Linked DNA regions of Homo sapiens. Changing the gene in region 2 together with the main gene of any one other region gives a genetic interaction. Each region holds a gene or a part of one and is shown on either strand. Other genes may lie near its edges.

The links. Genes that interact genetically often act in the same process or in processes that back each other up.
Region 1: of CCNH (region 2) and ATG10, changing one suppresses a phenotype caused by changing the other (phenotypic suppression), as found in Homo sapiens cells (one large-scale study listed by BioGRID).

What each region holds. Positions count from the first base shown.
Region 1 is NC_000005.10:81,970,805-81,974,822, reverse strand, and holds the start of ATG10 (ubiquitin-like-conjugating enzyme ATG10), read right to left. Parts: upstream 2,801-4,018; 5' UTR 2,517-2,800; exon of another isoform or gene 2,232-2,516; intron 2,215-2,231; exon of another isoform or gene 762-2,214; intron 1-761. UniProt on the Homo sapiens protein: E2-like enzyme involved in autophagy. Acts as an E2-like enzyme that catalyzes the conjugation of ATG12 to ATG5. ATG12 conjugation to ATG5 is required for autophagy. Likely serves as an ATG5-recognition molecule. Not involved in ATG12 conjugation to ATG3.
Region 2 is NC_000005.10:87,395,931-87,399,430, forward strand, and holds part of CCNH (cyclin-H), read right to left. Parts: coding exon 3,464-3,500; exon of another isoform or gene 3,463-3,463; intron 1-3,462. UniProt on the Homo sapiens protein: Regulates CDK7, the catalytic subunit of the CDK-activating kinase (CAK) enzymatic complex. CAK activates the cyclin-associated kinases CDK1, CDK2, CDK4 and CDK6 by threonine phosphorylation.

The sequences.
Region 1 (4,018 bases), 5.4 Mb from region 2:
GGGACAGGGTGCAGGAAGTTTACAGTCTTAAAACTCAAAGGAAGCTTGGAGACATAGCTCTCGCCTTTAGTCCTCACTACTCAGGAGGCTGAGGCAGGAGGGCTGCTTGAGCCAGGAGTCACGGCTGTGTAGTGCCTTCTAATTGTGCCTCTAAATAGCCACTGCACTCCAGCCTGGGCAACTTAGAGACCCCACTTCTTAAAAAACCAAAAGAAGAAACCAAAAAACCCAAAGGAGATTCCATTTAAAACAATTGGCAATAGGAAACCAGTGTAGGTTCTTGAGCTCAGAAGAGATGATAAAAAGGTTTTCTCAGAAAGATGTTACATGACAGTGATATGAAATAACCCTAGCTTCAAAGCTACACTCCTATTACTAAGCCCTCTTCCTGGATCCTATAAAACTATGTGATCAGGTAAGCACATTAGAGAAGTCTTGTCTCTGCAGTTTTCAGCAACCATTCCCTAATTAAGATTCCTTCAGGTACAGCTTATTCTCCTATTCTCCATTCCCCAACTTTCTAATTGCTTTATTATACTCAGGCTGCTTGTCCCCTGAAAACATTTGTTTTCAATAGATAATCACCAAATGATCTCCATGGCTTTTTTTTTCTTAAGGTTCCCTGATTATATTTATGATTCAAACACAACCTCCTGGGTCCCAAACACATCTCTAGGTTTCAAAGATAATCAAATCAAGCCCATCTTAAGAAATCTTCTGTAAGCTTTACTCTCCTTGTTTTTCCTAAAGGGCTGCTTTACCTTTCTCAGAAATGTATTAGGCATCAGGAACTACTGTCGACATGTAGTTTGTCACAAAACATTATACATAACTTGAATGGCCCACCATGTACCAAAATCTCAGTTAACCTTATCCTAAATAAAACAGGAGACAAGGGAAATAATCTTTTAACACTCCACATTCAAATGTATGCAATTTAGAACTACTATTTCCACTAATTTCTTCAATTTAAAATATCAATAACAATTTTTAAACTCTGCAATTTGCAAGACTTTAATTTTAATTTCTCAATACTCAGGATTTATTTTTTGGTCAAAGTTCTGTAACATTTCCTCTGGTCACTGTTTAACCTTTCTGAAGCAATGAGAAAGGATTCTACTTGGAGTCCTAAGATGTATTTGAGTACCACACAGGGCCTATGTCCTTCCATCCTGAGAAGCATAAACTTGTTTTTGCCACTAAAGAATAGAGACCATTGTCCAATAACAAAAGTTATAAATATGACTCAAAATGAACCTGTGACAAAGATTTATTAAACTCACAATGGAACAAGCTGAATGGCTTAGTGTGCTCAAAAGCATTTCAGGAACTGAGCATAAACACTGAAGAAAGGATGGTAAGTTTGATAGGTTAGACAGAAAAATGGTTAATATTGGCCGGGCGCGGTGGCTGACGCCTGTGATCCCAGTACTTTGGGAGGCCGAGGCAGGCGGATCACAAAATCAGGAGTTCCGGACCAGCCTGGCCAATATGGTGAAACCCCGTCTCTACTAAACTTACAAAAATTAGCTGAGCGTGGTGGCGGGCACCTGTAGTCCCAGCAACTCGGGAGGCTGAGGCAGGAGAATTGCTTTAACCCGAGAGGCAGAGGTTGCAGTGAGCCGAGATCGTGCCACTGCACTCCAGCCTGGGCGACAGAGCAAGACTCTGTCTCAAAAAAAAGAAAAGAAAAATGGCTAATATCCTACAAGGCACTAAAACTACAACCTTTAGGAGTACTGTATTTTTTTCTCTCCCACTCAGAAATAATTTGCATCTCCATTAATGAAAAAGATGTTAACTACAAAGCCTAGGCCCTAATCAATATCATCATGCCAAACAAAATATAGTCCCCTAGACATCTAAATCATCTTCAGGTGGGCCTGTTAGGCTCCATTTTGACTCTGAAAAAAACATGCTGTCCTTTTGCCTTATTTCCAATACTTTTGTAATTTTTACCGCCACTAAAAGTTTCTATAAATCAGTCAACTATTCCTTTATCATTCTCCGGTCCTCCCCGCCAATTCTTGATTTTATAGGTTTTTTGGGAGGTTTAAAAAAAAAAGAAAGACCTGTTGGCTCTAAATATCAAGTTATTCCTCCTGATACTTAATCTGAAACTTCAAATTAAGTTGGACTCAGCCACTGGAAGCCCCAGTAATTTAATACTGTTTCAACCAAAGATTTGCTATCAGTATGTGGATTTTAAACACAAAGTAGTTACTACCCACTTCGAGGGTGCTTTGGGTACTGGGCCAGGTGTGCTGGTGACACCGTGTGCGCGACGGGGACCGGGTCCCCGAGGAGGGAGTGTCCTCGCCCTTCCCCGCTCGCGGCGGCCAGCACAGGCCTGCAGTTACCGGCGGGGACCCGCTTCCCCGGCCTTTTGTTCAGGACTGGGCTGTTTCCCGCCTACCCGCGCGTGCCCTTCCTCCCTGTCCTAGGAGTGGGGCAAGGACCGTGTGGGAAGCAGAGCCGGGAGGAGACAACCGGCAAGGGCTGTGGGGAATACTCACCCCTCTCCGCTCGGCCCCTGACCCCGCAGCCCAGCCCGGCGAGGGCGGGGCGACGGGGCCAGGGGGAGGAGAGCTGGGGAGAGGGACCCAGCGCCCTGCGAGGCCACTGCCGCGCCGGTGACCCTACGGAACTGAATGATGGGACTGCGGGGGCCTCGAGGGCGGAGGAAGAGCCGAGCCAGCGCGCCCCGAGGCCAACCAGAAGTGGCCGTGGCCTCCTTCAGTCAGGTCCGCGGCCTCCTTCAGTCAGGTCCGCCACGGCCGAGTCGGAGCGTGCGCACTGCGCCTTCCCGCGCCGTGGGGGCCGCCTAGCGCAGGCCGGTGACGTGATCGGCCGCGCGCTCTGGGCAGGGCGGGGCTGAGACCCAGGCCGGGACTGGGAGCGGGTGGAGAGGAGGGAAGCGAGACCTCCCCGCCGCCCGCGACCACCCCCGCCAAGGCCCCGCCCCTCGCCTGGCGGGCAGCTCTCCCCCGCCAACCCCCACCTCCAACCCAACGCAGGCGGTGCCCTCCGCGGAGCACAAAGGCGGCTCGTTGACGGGGGAGCGGGTTACTAGCATCCCCCTAAGAGGTTGGGGAACCATGCCAGCATGCTTACGCTACAAAAAGTCCTGTAAACACCACAATTAAGCACAAGCACGGCTACCCCTTGAAAACTTACGGATGGAGGGAGAAGTTAGGAATTCGAATATTGACAATAGTACCATCTGTGGCACATATCCCAGAGGAGAAAAAAAAAAAACTAGCAGCAAAATTAAATTGGGGCGAAACGATGGGGATAAAGACTAGAAAAAATGTAGGAGTAACAGGGGTAATCGAACTGAAATAGCAGACATCTGAAAGAAAACTAGCATCTGCTCCTTCTAACAACAGAGTTAAATTTGTTGGAAATGAAAGGAGAAAATGCAGGCGAAGAAGTGAAAGGAAAACCTGCCTTCAAACTACATGACATAGTTTTTTGATCTTGTACTACAGTTGTGTAAGATGTCACCATTGGAGGAAACTAGGTGATAGGTACACGGGACTCTAGGTGCTGTAGTATTTTTGCAATTTCCTGTGTCTATAATTATTTCCAAATAATAAGTGTTTTTAAAAGGAGAGAATACTGATCAGTGGCGACCAGGGCAAAGGGCTGGAGGAAGGGGGTGACTGAAAAGGAGCTTGAGAGCTTCTATACCGTGATTGTGTTGGTGACTAAACCACTGTTTGACAAAACCCATAAGAGGTATAAATTTTACTGCATGTGAAATAGTTTAAAACTCAAAATGATGCGACTAATAAAAATGAACTTACACTAACATTTTTTAGCAACTATGGATATAAATTAATTGGTAGCTGCCAATTTAGATTATCCATTTAATTTTTTTAAAAGCACAAGGCAGTGTGTTCTGAATGAGAGCTTAAGTAGACCAGGTGTCTCCATCAACTTTAAGTATTTACCTTAAAAACGTATTTCACAGATGAAAACAAGAATGCGGCTGGGCGCAGTGGCTCACGCCTGT
Region 2 (3,500 bases):
AAACAATAGAATATATCATATATAAATAATATATCATATATAAATAAGTACAATCAGCCTTCTGTATCCTGTGGGTTCCACATCTGTGGACTAAACCAACTGCGGATTGAAAATAAGGAAAAAAATTCTATCTGTACTGAACATGTACAGAATTTTTTCTTATTATTCCCTCAAGAATACAGTATAACTATTTACATAACATTTACATTGTATTTAGGTATTATAAGTAATCTAGAGATGATTTAAAGTATATGGGAGGATGTGTATAGGTTATATGCAAATACGCCATTTTGTATTAGGGCATCTGTGGATTGTGGTTATGAGCAGAAAGTCCTGAAACCAATCCCCCATGGATACTGAAGGATGACTGTATATAGAATCTATAAAGCACTACAAACCACAAAAATGTGGCCAGGTGCAGTGGCTCACGCCTGTAATCCCAGCACTTTGGGAGGCTGAGGCGGGCGGATCACGACGTCAGGAGCTTGAGACCATCCTTGGCTAACACGGTAAAATCCCGTCTCTACTAAAAATACAAAAAAAAATTAGCTGGGCATGTTGGCATGCACCTGTCGTCCCAGCTACTTGGAAGGCTGAGGCAGGAGAACTGCTTGAACCCGGGAGGCAGAGGTTGCAGTGAGATCACGCCACTGCACTCAAGCCTGGGTGACACAGCAAGACTCCATCTCAAAAACAAACAAACAAACAAAAAAGCCAGAAAATTGGGCAAAGGGGATAAATAAGCAATACAGATGAAATATAAGTGACTGTTAAGTATGGAAAGTTCAATGTCCCATAATCAAGAAAATGCAAATTAAAATACCAATGTGATACTTTTTCACCCAGACTAGCAAAAGCTAAGCATTGATAATCACCCATTGTACAATATGTATGAAAAATGCAAAGAAGAAAAAAACGCTGCTTATTTCATAAATATATGGATATACGTGCAGAGAAAAGGCTGGCAAAGGTAAACAACTGCTAAGTAACTTCTGAGGTCATGACAGATTTGGGTTTTGATCAAAGGGAACTTTGGTTTCACTTGTATTGACTGACAATGACAAAACAGTTTTTGTGTCATGAAAACTAAAGGTAAAATAATTTTGAAGATCAAGGAAAACAAATATTTAGTCCTAAAGTAGCACTACTCATGGTAGCAAGTACCAGAGCTGGTCCATGAACAGTTTCCAGTTTGCAGTGAGTTAAGTACAGGAATTGTGTTTCATAATTTTTTTTTTGTTTTTTTTTTTGAGACAGAGTCTTGCTCTGTTGCCCAGGCTGGAGTGCAATGGCGTGATCTTGGCTCACTGTGACCCCTCCAGGGTTCAAGCAGTTCTCCCTGCCTCAGTCTTACAAGTAGCTGGGATTACAGGCACCCACCACCACGTCCAGCTGATTATTGTATTTTTAGTAGAGACGGGGTTTCGCCATGTTGGCCAGGCTGGTCTCGAACTCCCGACCTCAGGTGATCCGCCCGCCTTAGCCTCCCAAACTGCTGAGATTACAGGCATGAGCCACTGTGCCCGGCCCTAGAAATTTTTAATAGCAATTTGATATAATAATTTTATGACTGCTGAATCTAATAAAACTTGAGCTTATGTTTTTGTCTTCACTTTTCTAGTAATTCATTTTTTATTGAATTTTACAAAAGTATACATCTAGTGATTTTTTTTTAAAAAAGTCCTTCGCAGTTTGAGAAGCACCCCTCAAGTACTCATAGATATTCAGAATTTGGCCCAGTACAAGGCAGATGGCAATCTGGAATACAATGTAAGCTATGGCAGTTAAGAATTTTGGATTATGGTCCATTCAGTTACTTAGCTAGAAAGGGTAGGATTAGTAGTTCAGTGGTCTAATCCAGGGGTGGATAAACTTTTTCTTTAAAGAGACAGTAAATATTTTCGGCCTTGCAGGCCCTATAACCAGTTTCTGTTGCAACTACCTAACTTTTCTGCTGTATCATGAAAATAGCCATAGGTGATATATAAACGAATAGGTGTGCTACATTCCAAGAAACTGTGTTCTAAAAACGCTAATGGGCTGGATATGCCTGGTAGGTAACAGTTTGCCAACCCCTGGTCTAATCCCATTTCAAAATCAATGCAAAAAGGACATAATCAGTGCTGCAATACTTTTATTCATTAAAGTCAACATTACTTCTCTGTAACCACTCTGAAAAATTCCTGTTACCACTGAAACCGAGGAGTGAATGAAATCCACCAATTTCAAGTTCTATGCTAAAACATGCTTTGTCGTTATACCTATAACTATAATAAAACAACCTCATATTCTGCACACTTCCTAAGTCCGTAGATATTCCCCAACTACAACTGTATAGGTAAGGAATTTGAGTCATGTGTATTTGACATAAAGGCCTTGGAATTGCTGTTCTGGCTTTTCATAGTTATCCAGCAGCACATATTCACCAATTACAGAAATAATACCTCAAATACATCTTAAATATAAGATGCCACAGATAACTCCCATTAAATTTTAACAAATAAGGTATAACTTTAAGTAACAAAATGCATCCCACAGGAAATAGAAAATGGCAGTTTCATTAATCCTAGTACCTGTCCAAATTCCCAACTGCTTAAACACCTAAAAAAGAAAGTTTCAGTGGATCTTTCAATTTGCAAAGCACAAATTGCCAATTTTATGGTGATTTTCACATTCAGCTTACAAATCAATTAAGAGACATTAAAGGTGTTCTTATGGCTAGCCACAAGAAGAAATTACATGGCCTCTTTTCCTATTGGCTTTGTGGTCACTATAAAGTTTGTCACTGAAAGAAGTATGCCGGGAGGCCAAGGTGGGCGGATCATGAGGTCAGGAGATTGAGACCATCCTGGCTAACACGATGAAACCCCGTCTCTACTAAAAATACAAAAAATTAGCTGGGCGTGGTGGAGGGCGCCTGTAGTCCCAGCTACTCAGGAGGCTGAGGCAGGAGAATGACCTGAACCTGGAAGGCAGAGCTTGCAGTGAGCTGAGATCGCGCCACTGCACTCCAGTCTGGGCAATAGAGCGAGACTCCATCTCAAAGAAAAAAAAAAAAAAGAAGTATGCCAACTTTCTCTACTCTAGCTAACAGAAGTCTGGAAGAGCATATTTGTTCCTCAGACCAGATATCACAACTTCAAAGAGACAAAAGATTAAAAGGACAGGAAAAGGTAAAAGGATTCCTTAGGAAGACCCTGACCCCTGAAATCCCATGAGAAGTAACAGAACAGGACAGGGCCTGCAAGCCAAAGAACATATGAGTCACAGCAGGATCAGAACTGCACAGTGAATGCCGAACTATTACCTTAATCTCATTAGAAATGTCCATTCAATAAAGAAAATCTGATTTTATGGATCAGTCAGCTTTCCTCTAATGAGCAAACACCAATAAAATGATTTACGAACCAGCTGGACTGGATAACAGTTATGTCTATTGATTAACACTGTCACATTAACTTACGTGATTACGTTAAGTGCAAGCTCAGCAGAATGACATC